2 separate regions of the Homo sapiens genome follow, and region 1 is linked to region 2. Evidence: fine-mapped expression QTL. A gene starts in region 2. The other region holds a variant in brackets. All regions are shown on one strand. Distances are from middle to middle. Region 1 holds the start of LOC105379613 (a long non-coding RNA gene). Region 2 holds the start of LINC02347 (long intergenic non-protein coding RNA 2347).

The links. PIP is the estimated chance that this variant, and not a neighbour inherited with it, causes the effect.
Region 1: its variant is fine-mapped to the expression of LINC02347 in pancreas (GTEx, PIP 0.99).

What each region holds. Positions count from the first base shown.
Region 1 is chr12:126,344,605-126,352,943 of GRCh38, reverse strand. It overlaps LOC105379613 (a long non-coding RNA gene), which reads right to left and starts at 2,923. Exons shown (of 3, transcript XR_001749379.1): 1 at 2,331-2,923. RefSeq lists a silencer at 1,458-1,613. The variant T/C (reference allele first, on the strand shown) is at 3,602.
Region 2 is chr12:126,438,773-126,447,111 of GRCh38, reverse strand. It overlaps LINC02347 (long intergenic non-protein coding RNA 2347), which reads right to left and starts at 4,631. Exons shown (of 12, transcript NR_130748.1): 1 at 4,524-4,631; 2 at 4,085-4,146; 3 at 2,059-2,227. LINC02825 (long intergenic non-protein coding RNA 2825) reads left to right here. Exons shown (of 4, transcript NR_147498.1): 2 at 1,542-1,692.

The sequences.
Region 1 (8,339 bases), 94 kb after region 2:
AGCCACCACGCCCAGCCTGGCACACAAATCTTAACTGTAGGGTAGACATCTTCTTGTTATCCTTTTACCTAACTTAAGATTTCATGTTAACAAGAAAGACTAAGTTCTTCTGGGGGAGTAGACATGTGCCTGGTAAGTTGGAGTATGAACAAGCATCAATTAATGCTACAGATTCCCTCTTTATGGAGTCTTATGCGTCTTTTACAAAGAAAATGCCAAGGAGGGCTCAAAAGTTCAGCTAAATCTCTTTAATGCTAATCAATTAAGGGAAACAAGACTATGTTTATTAACGCTTGAATTATCAAATTTTGTAAAAAAAAAATGATTTGTACTGTCGTGTATAGTAGCCATGGTAATTCAAATAAGATTGACCAACATTGACAAACAACCCTTTTAATAATTAGATAAGAATGAATCTCCATTAGCCGTTTGGGGCCATATTAATGGGGACCTGTTTGTATGTTTTTTGTGTGTTTATTTTCCTGTAAGAGGTTATAATATTTGTGCTCCTTGCGCTTGCATATGCTGTTACTTCAGACTTGCTTACCAAGTGTTTGGTGAATGAACTTATAACTTGACCCTCTTAATTAACAGGGATTTAATATCTGGGGCACCTGACTCTATAGGCTGATGGCATGCTGGGCAACAATGAAATTGGTGATTTTAAGAGAAATGTAGCCAGCTCATAGGCTGCCATTCCTGAGCACTGACTGTGCCTGCACTTGCCCTGAGATCACCACTACATTTGCCCATTTGCCATCAGAACCACCATGAGGTGGGCAGCCATGACCCCCCCACAGATGGGGTCTCTCTACATAGGAGGCATCACACTGGACTCAACCTTGCCATGGTCCCTCATCCTCCATCCTCCCTCTTCCCTGACCCACTGGTTCCCCCTTTTACACCCTAAAAGACCAGTCAGGTCCCTGAGATCTCCACCCAGCATTGGGCCAGGTCCACCAGAGGCTGAAGCTAGTGTTTGCTCCTGTTTCTGGAATCAGGTTTCTTGGCCAGGTCTTGGCAGCTGAGGTCACACAGGCCTGGGACTGAGTCCTCCTTTGGTTATGAAGGAGAGTGACTCAACTTCCCATGCCTCAGCCTTCTCATTTATAAAACGGGAATCATAAAGACCCCCTCTTCACAGGGTCCAGGAATCAGTGCTGCAGGTGAGGCCTTTCACAGAGCACAACACGACAGGCACCCTTGTGGATTGTGTGGGCAACGCCATTTTACTCCATGGCCCCAGAGCCTGGAGCTCTGCAGGAAGCTCCCCATGAGCTGCAGGAAGCAGCATTTCTGATTGGGCTTCTGCCATGGGCCTGCTCCAGGTGACCCTCTTCCAAATGGCAGCTGTCTCTTGAGTCTCTTGGTTTACCCAACCCAGGAGAGAGGCAGGAGTGGCATATGTTTCAGGAAGATGGAGTCCTGGGGAGCAGGTGTGAGGGGTAGGGGGATGGCAGTGCACCTGGAGCCCAGGCCATGACACAGGTATGAGGGTAGGGGGATGGTGATGCACCTGGATCTGAGGCCATGACACAGGTGTGAGGGTAGGGGGATGGTGGTGCGCCTGGATCTGAGGCCATGACAGATGTCCCCTCAGGTGCTGCCTCCAGGACACAGACCCAGTATCTCCTGTCTTCTGTATTTTTCACAAGAGGCCAAAATTTGGAATTTTCATTTGCATATATGAGAGCTTCTAATTTTGTTAAACCATGACTTTTTAAAGTTGTTTCTGGCCCGGGCTCAGTGGCTCATGCCTGTAATCCCAGCACTTGGCAGGCTGAGGCAGATGGATCATGTAAGGTCAGGAGTTCAAGACCAACCTGGCCAAAATGGTGAAACCTCGTCTCTACTAAAAATACAAAAAATTAACTAGGTGTGGTGGTGGGCGCCTGTAGTCCCAGCTACTCAGGAGGCTGAGGCAGGAGAATTGCTTGATCCCAGGACGTGGAGGTTGCAGTGAGCCGAGGTCACACTACTGCACTGCAGCCTAGGTGACGGAGTGAGACTCCGTCTCAAAAAACCAAAAAAAGTTGTTTCTGAACAGTTTGAACACAACAGGTCAGCATGCTGCATTCAGGCCTCTGTTCTCCTCCACACAGCAGTTCTGCACAACCTTGTCCTTTTGACTGACAGCTCCAGCCCAGCCCTGCCAGGAACTCTCCCCACCCCACCTCATTGCTTTACTGGTCCCAAATCCCTTCCCCAGCCTCATCAGACCTGAAGATCCTTCCAGAAGGAATGGAATCTAGTAAATGAATTAATATCAGAGATGATGATGGATGAAGCTTAATCATTGGCCCCTCTCTGGAGAAACAAAAATTAAAAACCTTTTTCTGGAGCCGCCTCTTGAGTGTCCATCCACAGGTCCCCTTCTCTTTCCTCCTGATTGACCAAGCTCACATCCCAGAATAGATACTGAATAAAGATTCACTTTCCCAGGTCCTCTGGAGATGACAGGTGACCCAATATTGTCCAGGCAGACCTAAGAAAGACACTAATTGAGGCTTATGTAAAGCTTTTTCCTGACAAAAAATAAAAATAAAAAAAAGTAAAACTTGCCAGTTTTCTGCCTCTGAATGTAAGTAAGCAGGTGATGATATGCTGTGAGAAGCTCCAGCAGCCATTCTGTGACCATGAGGAGACTAGACCAAGGATCAACCAACATGCAGTGGGTACAGCAGAAAGATAGAAAGAACTGGGTGCTTGGAGACCTGGGAGATGGCTGAACAAAACCTGAAATTTCCTAGCTTTAGCTTCTTGTCATGTGAATTAATCTTTCTTGTTTAAAATCTTCTAGTTGAATATTCTATTATAATGAGGTAGTGTCAAATGATTCACAAAGGACCTGAGATACTAAAATGTGAAATTGTGGGCTGGGTGTGCAGTGACCCATGCCTATAATCCCAGCGCTTTGGGAGGCCAAGTTGGATGGATTGCTTTAGCCCAGGAGTTCAAGAGTGGCCTGGGTAACATGGCAAAATATTATCTGCACGAAAAATAAAATAAAATAAAATAAAATAAAATAAAATAAAATAAAATAAAATAAAATAAAATGCAAAATGTAGAGCACCACCTATGTAAGTTAAATATGAAATTGACCTCCGTATGGCAGCACTGACTTTTCCGGTGTAATTTCCCGATGGCATCTGCTACCTGTGTGAGTCTCTGTGAGTGCTGGTGTGTGTTGTCATGACACAACCTCACAAAAGTGAACAGGCACTCTTACGCTTTTATTCACCATTCAGGCTCCTGCCTGGAATTAATGAAGTGGATGGTTTCAATGAAAAAAGACTGCCAGATGCAGAGAGAGCCACAGCTTTGTGAAAATGAGGGGGTGCAAGAATCTGGCTGACTTCCTTCCATCCTGCGTGGCCGGTGTAATCACTCTACACCATCTGTCGGAAGTTCATATGGAAAATTGTCACAACGAGCTTTCTTTTGTCAACCTCATAAATGGTCCTATTTAAAAAAATTCCAAGCTTCCTTAGGCAACTGTAAGCAAATAAATAATTGTTTTTCACTTCAAAACTATCCATCTTTTCTCAAACCCCCAGCTACCATCAAGCCCCCTAGACATTTTCCATGTCATAACCCTCCA[T/C]CTGCAGCTGGGTCTCCTACTGCACCCACGGTAGGCTACTGCACTGACCGGAATTCCATTTGTCTTGGTTTTACTGCCTGATAAAAGTAGAGATTGCATTAAACAAAGACTCCATGACAGACTGAGAGCATACAATTTAGAGATTAAATGGGCCAGATTTTAGATGCCCAAGGTGTTTACGGCAACGAGCAGAGTCAAAATAATTAGAAAATGATGCACGGCCTACCACAAACCATCTCTCATCTGAACAGCTGATCGTCACCCCCACAATGTTCCAGATGTGTGTGTTTTCTTCAATAATGGGGAGTTAAAAATAACCCTCTCAGTTCCTCCAAATGATGTATGGCAGGGCCACTGCCATCAGGCATTCTGCAGAGGGGAGCCTCCTCAGTTACTATAGAAAGGCTTGAGAATAAAATAAATATAACCATGTGCTCATCATCCAAATGAAATTTTAATTAATTCAGAACTTGTTCCGAAAGCTTTCCAAGACAACTCATGCTAATGAGCTCTCTGCACTCTTCTTCCTCCAGTTTATGATGTCATGCTAAATGGGCTGCATCTACCAATGTTGATGAGATGAAAATCCATTCATTCTGGACTGAGGTTTGAGTATAGTTTTAGGACCTGCTGAAACACCTCAATTTCCCTTCTTCAAAACCCAGGGCCTCTTCTCTCTCTTTCCTTGTTGGGCTGAGATTGATGGCTTTTGTAAAAGCTTTCGGCGCTTCATGGGAAGAATCTCAACTCAATGCATTGGCTTTGGGGCATTAACCAATTTCCGTACTTAAAACAACTACCCACCAGCCCTTCCTCCAGCCAGCATTTTGTGCATGGGTGACACCAGCAGTGAGACAGAATTATCTGCTGTTCTTAACCACACAGCCTGGCCACTTCATTGTCTATGGGTCAAGGGCAGCAAGGTGTCATCACCTTGGGGTGAGTACAGATCTGCCAGGCTCATCAAATCACATGCATTTGGTCTCTCCACTCAGAAAATAAATGCCAACTCCTACCTCATCTTCCCCAAGAGCCTTGAAAAAGTCAAATGAGATGAGCTGTGTACTCTGTGCACTAAATAATGTGTATACACAGACACAGAATGTGGAATAATTGTCACTGGAGACTCGAAGGGAGGAAGGATGGGAGGGAGATGAGGGATGAGAAATTACTTAATGGGGACAATGTACATAACTTAGGTGGTGATTACCCTAAAATCCCAGACATCACCACTGTGCAATATATCCATGTGACAACACTGCATTTATGCTCCTTAAGTGTATACAAATTTAAGAAAAAATGTTAAGTAGCTTTCATATTTGAATGAACACCTCTAACTTCCATCATGTTGGGTTCCTATGGACCCTGGAATTGTGAGACCACACAGGGAGAGGAGGAGCCAATCCCAGCTGTGCTGCCCCTCACCGGAATGGGAGCACCGAGGGCAGGATAGACCAGGGGAGGGAACATGGATAATGATTTCGACACCCTGGTGCTGTTGCTAGGCATTACCTTTTCACATTTCCTCCTAAAACCACAAGGATCTGATATACTGAGCATAAAACCCACAGCATGGGACAAAATACAACTTTTCTTTCAAATTATCCAATTCTAGACATGTGAGCAGGCAAGGACACCTGCATGTGATTGAGGAAGCCCCTGATGGACAGTCACTGTTCCCGGGGTGAGCTCTGGGGATGCGGGCCTGCACTCATCCGGACAATCCAGGAGGAGGCGCTACACCAAGAGTCAGCAGCCCTTTTTCTGTAAAGGGCCTGAAAGAAAATACAATAGGCTTCATGGTCTGTGCAGTTTCTGGCACAATTGCCCAATTTGGCTCTTGCAGAGTGAATGGACATGGCTGTGTTTCGTTAAAACTTTATTTACACAAATAGGTAGCAGAGGAAGGAAATCAATTCAAGAGATGTTTAAGAGACAAAATAACAGTTTGCAAACCAAAGACATATGACAGTATGAATAATGTCCTTAACTAGCTAATGCCCACACAAGAAAAAAATTAGATATTATCTCTATTACAGTCCATTTCACACATCTTTCATAAAAACAAAACAAGGGAATATTTCCCAACTATGGATGCCAGATCATTAGTGGGTCATTACATTGATTTATTGTCATTTTTATTTTTTTGAGACAGACTCTCATTCTGTCTCCCAGGCTGGAGTGCAGTGGTACAATCTCTGCTCAGTGCAACCTCTTCATCTCAGATTCAAGCAATTGTCCCTGCCTCAGTCTCCTAAGTAGCTGGGATTACAGGCACATGCCATCACGCGCAGCTAATTTTTCGATTTTTTGGTAGAGATGGGGTTTTGCCATGTTGGCCAGGCTGATCTTGAACTCCTGATCTCAGGTGATCTGCCCGCCTTGGTCTCCCAAAGTGCTGGGATTAGAGGTGTGAACCACCATGGCCGGTCCATTCCGACGATTTAGTGGATCACAACTTTCAAATTAAAAAAGATAAAATAGTCCAATAGTAATAAAATCACATTTGATATAAAATAAAACTTTTATTTTCATATAATAGTGAGGGAAAATATTTTCTATATGACTTCTTTAACTTTATGCATATACGTGTGTGTATGATATATGAAATGTATATTTTTCTTTGGGCCATCATCAATAAAGTTGGAAAAACACTGATATAATTGAAAGAACACAGAACTAGGAAATGGAAAGACTAGACAGGCTTTAATCTAAATTGTACTATTTGTTAGATTTGGATCTATATTTAACATCTCTAGACTTTACATGTCTTATTTGTAAAATTGAACCTTTCATTTATATTCTTAAAAATATATTTACTATGCACCCGCTATTAATCAGGCACTGTTCTAGGCTCTGGACATACATGGATCAACTAGACAGGCCCCACTCTAGGAAGCTAACAACCTACCTGGGGAGAGACATAAATAAACAAGTAAGTGGGTAAGCAGAGAAGAGGACGGGCTGAATGCTTATGGGGATGGGCACTGCTTCAAAGAGAGAGGTGAAGGAAGGCCTGGTAGGAAAGGGAGTGGCTATGAGAAGGTCCAAGGGGGCCTCTGGTGGTGAAAAAGAGCAAGGAGATTGCTGAGGGTGAATCTGGGCTCAGAGAGGTGAAAAGTCTTGATCACGTTCACCGGGGCCTGGTGGTAACTTGAACACAGGCTTTCCAGGCCAAATCTCAAATTCTACATCACTAGGCTTCTTCATTATGAATATGCTTCTTAAAATTGCATTTCTATATGCAAGCTGCTAGAAAGTTTCAAAGAAATGGTAGCACACCTAACTTTTGAATGCAGGTCTGGCTACCAGAGGCCACATCTCTCCAGCAATCAAGCTCAGTTGATGCCTTGAGGTATGGCCATTGCAACAAGGACTCTTGATCTCGCCTTCTCAAGCAAGTGCTTTTCTGATTAAAGAAGCATAAACAAAACCCCAAGCCATAGGTGCTGATTCTCCCCTGTGCAAATATCACTTGTATCAATCTCCAACTATACAATAGGCCTACATATGATACCAATACAAAACCTGCCTGTTCCAAGAAAGGAACTCACTCCATTACACTCAGGCATCAAGTCCATGATCTGAGTCTATTGCTTTGGAGCATCTGATGTCTGAAGTGGTGTGGGAGCCCTCTGTCCCCTAGTAACAGGTGGTGGAAGGCAGAATAACAGTCCTCAAAGATGTCCATGCCTAATCTCCAGAACCTTTGAATATGTTATCATACATAACAAAGGAGACTTTGCAGAGGTGACTATGTGAAGGCTCTTGAGATGGGGAGATTGTCCTAGATTATCAAGGTGGACTTATTATCATCCTAAGAGTCCTCGTGAGTAAAAAGTGAGAGGCAGGAACGTCAAAGAAGGAGATGTGATGATGAAAGTAGACAATGAAAATGAGAGCTTTGAAGATGCTTCACTTTGGCTTTGAGGATGAAGGAAGGGACCATGAGTTAAGACATACTGGTGGCATTTAGAAGATGAAGATGAAAAAGTTAGGGAAATTGATTCTCCCCTGAAGCCTTCAGAAAGAATGCAGCTCTGTCAACACATGGATTTTAGTCCAGTAACACCCATTTTGGGCTTCAGATTTCCATAAATATAAGAGAATGCATCTTTCTGAATCCTTGAGTCTGTGGCATTTTGCTTTAGCAACAATGAGGAACTAATACACTGATCCAGGACCCTGATCACGAATGGACACAAGGCAGGGCCATTACAGACGCCCATCCTCCAAACCACAGTGATTGGTCCGAGGATGGGCACATGACCCAAGCTGAGCCATTCAGAGTCCTTCTTTGTGGTTTTTCTTTCTGAGCCTGACGGCAAAGACTCTTCTGTCCTTTCTGAAAGGTGAAACCTTTCCCATGTGAGCCTATAGTTGTCAGAAGTTGTATTTCCTATGGCTTAGCAAAGGCCAGTCTGCAACTGCAGTGTAGAGACTGATTCAGAAAGAGGAGAGGAAGGAGAGGAGGAAAAGGAAGAAAGATTCTAAATGCTGTTTGAGCCCAAGAACAAAGTTCTTCTCACACTCAGCCCTGTCTGTTTCTAGTGTAGTTAGGATACACAATGCATCTCTTTCTCTCCTCTCTCTCTCTGTGTTTCTTCCTTTCTTCCTTTATTTATTCATTCATTCCTTCCTTCCGACCTTCTGCATGTCTTGGCTGGATTTTCTTCAACTGCAGTCAGAGAATTAACGAATTTGAAGGGTTTACCTAAACTTGTTATTCCTCTTGGGG
Region 2 (8,339 bases):
CCTTTCTTTTTCAGACTGTCGGAAACATTATAGCCAAACAAAGATTCTGGTTTATTTTTCTCAAGGAAAGTGGAACTGATGTTGGAATTGTGAGGAGATTTAGACATCATCAGAAACGATTCATGTCATGATGTTGGAAGTCTCCTTTCTTCTTTAGTTCTGACAATGCGATGTAAAAGAGTATATATTTTATTTAAATTTCTATCTTTATCCATATACAATTGATAAATAAAATTGTAGACATTTAAGGTGTACAACATGATGTTTGGAAATACATATGCATTGTGGAATAATTACCACAATCGAGCTATTTAACATATCTCATCTCACATAATTACCATTGTGTGTGTGTGTGTTTAGTGAGAGCATTTAATATTTCAATCCTTAGCAAATTTCTAGTATATAATACAGGATTATTACCTATAGTCACAATGCAGTACATAGATCTCCACAACTTATTTATCCTGCATAAGTGAGATTTTGTACCCTTTGACCAATATCTCCCTATTTTCCTTTCCCTGCGGGCCCTGGCAACCATCCTTATACTCTCTGCTTCTATGAAGGTAATTAGTTTTAATTCACCTCCTGGGGTAGCAGTTTCAGTAATCAAACACTCACATTCCTGCATTGATTAGCAAATGCCCAATTAGAAAGTCCACAGTCCAGAAGTTCTCACTAAAGCCTGTCAGCTGCCATTTTCTATGTCTGCTCAACACTGGAGGTCTCACTAGCTAGTGTAATTCATCTAGAAATGCTATTTCCTTGGAAAGTGTAGTGGTGTGTTCTCTAGCAACATGGATGTAGAAAATGGGCTTTCATTGACGAGAAAGGCAGATGGAATAAACTGAATCAGTCACTCCTCACACCTGCAAAACAAGGTCTCACCATCTCATAAGCCCCATACTCTATACTTGTAGGGAGAGCACATGAAGTCAAACCCCTAAACCACCCTCCATCCAGTCACTGAGATGGCAAATTCAGGTTGCCAGATGCCAACTGTGATGGATTTCTTCTTTTAGAACATTGTCATAACTGTCCCATGGGGATCTTTTATGGCATGTGTTATGTGTTGAAGGACTCATGTGTTGAAGTCTTTGTTTTCTTTTTGTTGTTGTTGTTGTTGTTTGTTGTTGTTTGAGATGGAGTTTTGCTCTGTTCCCCAGGCTGGAGTGCAGTGAGGTGGTCTCTGCTCACTGCAACCTCTACCTCCCAGATTCAAGCAAGTCTCCGGCCTTAGCCTCCCAAGTAGCTGGGATTGCAGGCATGTGTCACCACACCTAACTAATTTTTGTATTCTTAGTAGAAACAGGGTTTCACCATGCTGGCCAGGCTAGTCTCGAACTCCTGACCTCAGGTGATCCACCCACCTTGGCCTCCCAAAATGCTGGGATTGGAGGCATGAGCCACCACGCCAGGCCTCATGTGTTGAAGTCTGAACCTCCAATGTGACTGTACTTGGATATAGGGTCCTTTAAAGAACTAATGAAGATTAACGGAGGTCCTAACAATGGAGCCTAATCCAGTTTGATTTGTGTTCCTAGAAGAGGAAGAGACATGAGAGATACGCACAGTGAAGAGACCAAGCTGGGACACAGTACGAAGGTGGCATCTGCACGCCAAGCAGAGGGACCTCAGAAGAAACTGAGCCAGCCAGCACCCCACCTTCGTCTTTGACCTCCAGCCTCCAGAACTATGAGATATACCTTTCTGTTGTTTAATCCATCCAGGCTGTGTCATTTTGTTATTGCAGCCTGAGAGACCATTACAGAATGTGTAGTTGGATCACTTACAAGGATAGAGGATCTGGGTATCGTACAGTTTACAGAATGTATGGACCGCTGTGTTCCTATTGATAATATGTATTAATTATCAAATACTCATGTGTATGGCAGAATTTGTCCTGAGGCTTTGTTTCCTCTTAATCTGATTGTGAAGTTGGAGAAAAGGCTAATCCCTTGCCCAGCTCAAACTCTGACAAATATGTAATATTATTTCAAAAATGGTTTCCCATGACCCAAAGGGCTGAGGCTACTTCATGGCATTTGCTCTTTGACTCACCTGGACAATCTCTAGAAATGCACCTGAACTCGCCTGATGAAGTGCCCAATATTTCCCATTGTTCTAGGGAGCTGGGTTTTTTTAGCATGGAAATGAGATGATAATGAAGCCTGAGGTCTTCCTGAAGTCATTTGGTTGGCTATCTTGGCTCTAATCAGTTTCAGCTGGTCTGGTTAAAAAGGGAACTTTTTATTGCAGGCATCCTTAAAGAGTAGCAGAGTTAGGATAGGGTAGAAATTCAGCTATGTCACATAGGCATTATACTAGGTAACACTAACACCAGGGAAGAAACAGTACCCTTCTCACGAGTGGGGCACTGTCACCAAGGAGATGGTGGGGTGGAGCTCTGCCTACCAACCAAACCGTACATCAAGACTTTATTCTCTTCTTATGCTCTAGAATTTCACAGTAGTATTGGAGATAGGACATTTCCTTAAAGAAAGATGGAAAGCTAAAACAGGTTGCTATTGATCCGCTGGATACAAACAGCTTGCATGTCTGCAAATTATTCTGGTTGACTTGTGCCCAGTCCTGTTCATACAAGGACTTCAAAGACTCACCGGTTCATTCTGGAAACACAGATATTTAAAAACCTCCCATGTTAGCCAGGCACAGCGGCTCTGTAATCCCAGCACTTTCGGAGGCCAAGGCAGGTGGATCACTGGAGGTCAGGGGTTTGAGACCAGCCTAGCCAACATGGTGAAACCCCATTTTTATAAAAAATAAAAATTAACCAGGCGTGATGGTGGGCGCCTATAATCTCACCTACTCGGGAGTCTGAGGCATGAGAATCGCTGAAACCTAGGAGGTAGCGGTTGCAGTGAGCCCAGATCATGCCATTGTGCTCCAGCCTGGGTGACAGAGCGAGACTCTGTCTCAAAACAGAAACAAAAACCACAACGAAAAAACCTCCCATGTTCTTAGGCTCTGGCTCTGTCTGGGACATCTGCTGTCCATAGAGTAACCAAGGGCTATTTCCCAGCCACTAATTCCAGAGGTTTCCAGAGGGTTTTGTTCCCTCCTTCTTTGAACACTGCAGTCCATCAGGGTTTCAAGTAGTCCTGGTTTCCCAAAGTCTTGGTTGAAACCTGAAACACAGGACATTTGACCAAAAAAACAAAACAAAACAAACAAAAAGAAAAAAAGCCCCTATCCTAATGCCACAGAGACCCCAAAACAATTCACCAAGTGCATCAGGCCTCAGAGAATCAAATCAACTCTTTCAGTCTCTGCCAATGGCCATTCTCTCCATAAGTCTCGGGCAAAATTCCCGGTGGGAGGCAAATGAAGCCGTGTCTACACATCTGCTGTCCTCCCTCCCACACACCCTCTCCACTTCCTTCCTCGGTAGGTCACAATCAAAACACCTATGCAAATTTAGTGATTCTTTATAATTTCTTATCCATTGAGCCTCTCATGCTGTGCTTTATCAGTTTTCCATGACCACGAGACGCTCGCAGAACAAGCTAGTGCTTGGGACAACTGAAGATGAAAAATAGATCATTGGAGGTTGTGATCTAGCAAGGAAGATTAGGTTTATACCTAGAAAAGTTAGAAAAGCAGGCGCCTAGAGAGCCAGGTGTCACCATTTTAAAATTAACTCCATCTTTAAACTCGCAACACACATTCCTTGCCAGTTATGACCCGTGGTCATAAGATGTTTACTGCAGAGGAAACCGCTTGGCAATGCCTGCAAGGACAAACTCCTACAACAGCAGAAAGTCCACATGTCCCAATATCACATAACAATATATGCTTTTAAGAAATGTACAATCATGCTTTCATGTACTTATAAACTAAAATGCCAAGGATAACTTTCTTTAAATGGCCAAAGTACTACATCTTGTCACATTGTCAGCCCACCCACACACAGAGATAGCTTAGCTTTTATGTAGATGAGACCCCTGTGTAAGAAGAGTTTAAAACAAAGACAGGGCATTCCTCCTCTTGCTTTCTGAGGACACCCTACTCTGAATCTGAAGAATTTTCAATAAATGATCTCTTCTCACTACACTCTACAACTCACCTTGAATCCCTTTCTGTGGGAGGTCCAGGAACCCTCTCTTGAGGTCTGGATCATAGGGACCCCTTTTTCCAGCAACACAAACATTGACAATATAAAAATAAAGAACATGTTTATCTATGATATCAATGTCTGTATCTGTAAGTATACCTAGCTCAAAATCTGTCTCTTTATTTAGTTTTCTAACTATATGTCTATCTGTATCATAGACATATTAGAAATCATAATTTCTAACATATTGTTGTAGGAGGTCATAACAGAACCTATTATAAAGTGACAGTCTCTTGCTCCTATTTTCTATTATTTCCCATTCAGTCCAGGTAAGTCTTTTTGGGGGACCCTCCCCCACACCCGCTGGAACAGTTACTCTGGCACAGCCGCTCCAGCCTGGATCTCATTTTTGCTTCTCCTGGACTTCTCACTGTGCAGATGTTAGACTCACACTCTCCTCTGGCCTCCTGCTCCTGCTCTGAAAGTGAGCAGTTGTCCCTCTGGGTGGCATTTGAAGTCAAAGCTGGGTCTCTTGACAGTGCCCACCCCTGGTATTCCCACTGCAGGAGGGAGGCCTCTTCTGTTAACAGTGACAGTTATTACAGAACAATGCCTGGAGAGATGATAACTTAGAGCAATTTCATTGTCTTTCCCCTTGACGACTCAGCTCCCACGCTAGAGCAGGTGAGGCAGTGCTTAGGAATAACAAAACAAAATCGCAAAGCCAGGACTTCCTTGAGTTTACTTTGCTTTCTCACTAGATTTTAATTATTATTATTATTATTATTATTATTATTTTGAGATGGAGTTTCACTCTCGTCACCCAGGCTGGAGTGCAATGACGGGATCTCAGCTCACTGCAACCTCTGCCTCCCGGGACCAAGCTATTCTGCCTCAGCCTCCTGAGTAGCTGGGATTACAGGCACCCGCCACCAAGCCTGGCTCATTTTTGTATTTTTAGTAGAGACAGGGTTTCACCATGTTGGCCAGGCTGGTCTCGAACTCCTGACCTCAGGTGATCCGCGTGCCTCAGCCTCCCAAAGTGCTGGGATTACAGGTGTGACCCACGGTGCCCGGCCTCTGACTAGCTTTTTGGAAAATTTCATAGAATGATCCAGGGTTCCAGATTCAATTTACTTTAAGGTGAAATAAGTGGGCTGGTTAGCAAGTGGTCAGCTTTTCTTTGGTGTGAGGATAAAAAGAGGGTGGCTACTTTCTATGGCTTTCCAAACAGTCTCTGTTTCACTTAGTCCAAAAACACGTAATGTTCATATAACAAAGAAATGATACATATTTGAGGTGATGATATACTAAGTTGCCTAATTGGATCATTCCGCCATGTATACAGGTATCAAAACATCACATTTTGTTCTATAAATATATACAGTTACTATTTGTGAATTTAAAATCAAACTATAAAAAATACATTCTACTAATGTTCTAAGATGACTTCTGAGACATTTAGCGTGTATTGATTACTTATACTATGTCTCTCACTGCTTCTACTCATTGAAGAGGTTTATATTGTAAGTAAACATAATTCTTATCATATTCATTTTACAGATAAGGAAACTAAAGTGCAGAATAAATATTTGTCCAAATCTGCACGAGAAAGAGGTTCAACACAGGGCTAGCACCCAGGGATGTCTAGTTTTCAGGACCCACCCTCTCGCGTAGTACACTGCCCCTCCCTCCATTCACTGCAGTTAGGATTCAGGAGCAATAACTGGACACAGTCAAGCCAGTTTGCATCTTTACAGAAAATTCCACCCATTTCGATTAGTGAAGATTCACACGTTTAGCTATGATTTGGCTCCCAGAATTCCTCCAAGTCAGAATATAAACAGAGCTAGACATAGTTCAGACAGTTGTGTCATACCAAAAAAATTTTTAAAAGGATACAGAATCAATCAATCAAGTAGAAAATGAGACATTTTTCATTAAGCTAAAAATAATTAAGTCAATTATTTGGCACTAATGCAACTCTTAAGCCCCGCGGGTGGGAACTTTTGGTTCATAAAAAGTGTTTAGTTCAGATCTGAGCTGAAACAACTTTCAATCTCATTTTCAAGTAGAAAGATGGCAAGGGCCGAGGCGGGCGGATCACAAGGTCGGGAGATCTAGACCATCCTGGCTAACACGGTGAAACCCCGTCTCTACTAAAAATATAAAAAATTAGCCAGGCGTGGTGGCGTGCACCTGTAGTCCCAGCTACTCGGGAGGCTGAGGCAGGAGAATGGCGTGAACCCGGGAGGCGGAGCTTTCAGTGAGCCGACATTGCGCCACTGCACTCCAGCCTGGGTGACAGAGCAAGACTCCGTCTCAAAAAAAAAAAAAAAGAAAGAAAGAAAAAAAAAGAAAAGATGGCAAGGGCTCCTTTACACACCAATAAAATCAGAACAAATACGTATAAGCAACTAGGACAATCCTGGAATATTGTGGGCACCAAGTAAATATCGTGGATGCATCTTATGCAGCCAGACAGGATGATCCAATAATCAGACATCCGAAGGCTCCTGGAGTTTGATCCTCTGAATTCACTCTGCAATATGAAGTCCTGTTATTCTTGGCAACCGATCGTGCTTTTGAAAAAGTGTGTCCCAACTGAGATAACATTGAAATTTTCTGTTTAAAGACACCTCAAATGACTGTGCTCAGGAGTCAGTGTTCCCATCAATGGGTCTGAAGATATTCCTAAGCTCCAAGCCATAATAAATGGCATCTGAAATTATTTCAAGATTAATCATCCTGGGTAGACCTTGAGGGTTAGTCTGAAATTGTACATAACAACCCGGAAAAGCTGTGCATTGCCCAGCTAAAGTGTGGTCCCTGAAAGCCATCACCTGGGCCAGGTAGGCTGCTAGGCCACCCAGAGTAGAAAAATACAGAGCAGCCTACGGGCATATTTTCTTACCCAAGGCCAGTTTAGACAGAAGAGTCACTTGAATAATTGTCCACTTCGTTCGTTCTTCAATCCCAGAGGATACTTACTTTTGGAATATTCACTTTACTCCCCACATAGCCATATTTTTCTCACTTAACTCCATCTCTTCTTCTCTTTAAGGCCTGGTAGAAAATGGCCAAATTTTATAAAATGAGGCAGAAGTGCCTCTAACATTGCCCATATGTGGGAAGATGAAACCTAGGAAAGACAGCTTAGAAGGAGGGAGTCATGGTACCCACTGGGGTTCCTCAATGAGAACATTGTAGAAGGTGTAAATTGGCGGACTCAAGGCTGAATGCAGCCTATAGGTATATTTTCTTGGCCTACATGTCATTGCTTTTAAAATCACATTGGTTTTCAATAGCCAAAGTTCAGGGGGTTTTATATGCAGGGTCCTGGGTTTCAGGCTACTCTTTAAAAGTTTAGAAGATGTGGCAATGCTGGGCCTGTGTTTCTGCATAGCAGCAAAGGCCAGGAGCAGAGTAGCAGCTGCTTGCCTCAGAGGTGGCATTAGATCTTCAGGACACCGCAGTCCCCACCACTCCCAATTGCCTTAGCCTGGTTTCTGACACTCATTTATATCACTTGTTAGGCTGCTATGGGCATTGGAGTTTGTGTCTCCTAATTTAATACCTTTGGAAAACATTACTAAAAAACACATTTCCACAAATAGACTTGGCAGTATGGCAGAAATGCAAAAGTTAATCAGACCTACATCCTGCCCCCATATAAAAATAAAGTGCAGAAGAGCATATATAGTATGTTTCTATTTGGGCAAAAAGAAATCCCACATCTTCCCTCTCTCTATGCAATGCAAGTGCACAGTGCATAAATCACAAAGATCTCTTAGCATTGGATGCAGTAGATATATCTACACGATTTGAATTTTTTATCAAATGCTTATATTAATTTTTTAATAAGAGATCTAATTGTTATGATAGTTTCCAGAGATGGCTATCATAAATATTATTCCTCTTTCTACGCACATTACACTCAAACTGTTAAGAAAGGGAGTCAATTTCTCCTCCCTTTGTATCTGGGCTAGCAGTATAACTTACCTTGAACAAGAGAAGGTGGTAACGGGTCACTGTGATGATTCCAGTCACCGTCTATAAGAGGTCCAACAGCTTTTGCTTTCTCTCTGGGGAAAACCAGGCACTGTGTAAGAACTCCAGCCACTATGCGGCTGCCATGCCGTGAGGAAGCTCACACAAGCCATGTGGATAGGGATGACCCAAGTAACCAGGCCGCCAGTGACCACAGAGGCCTGAGGTGTGTGATCCCAGTTGAGTCACCACTATTTGTGACATCCCAGCCAAGGAT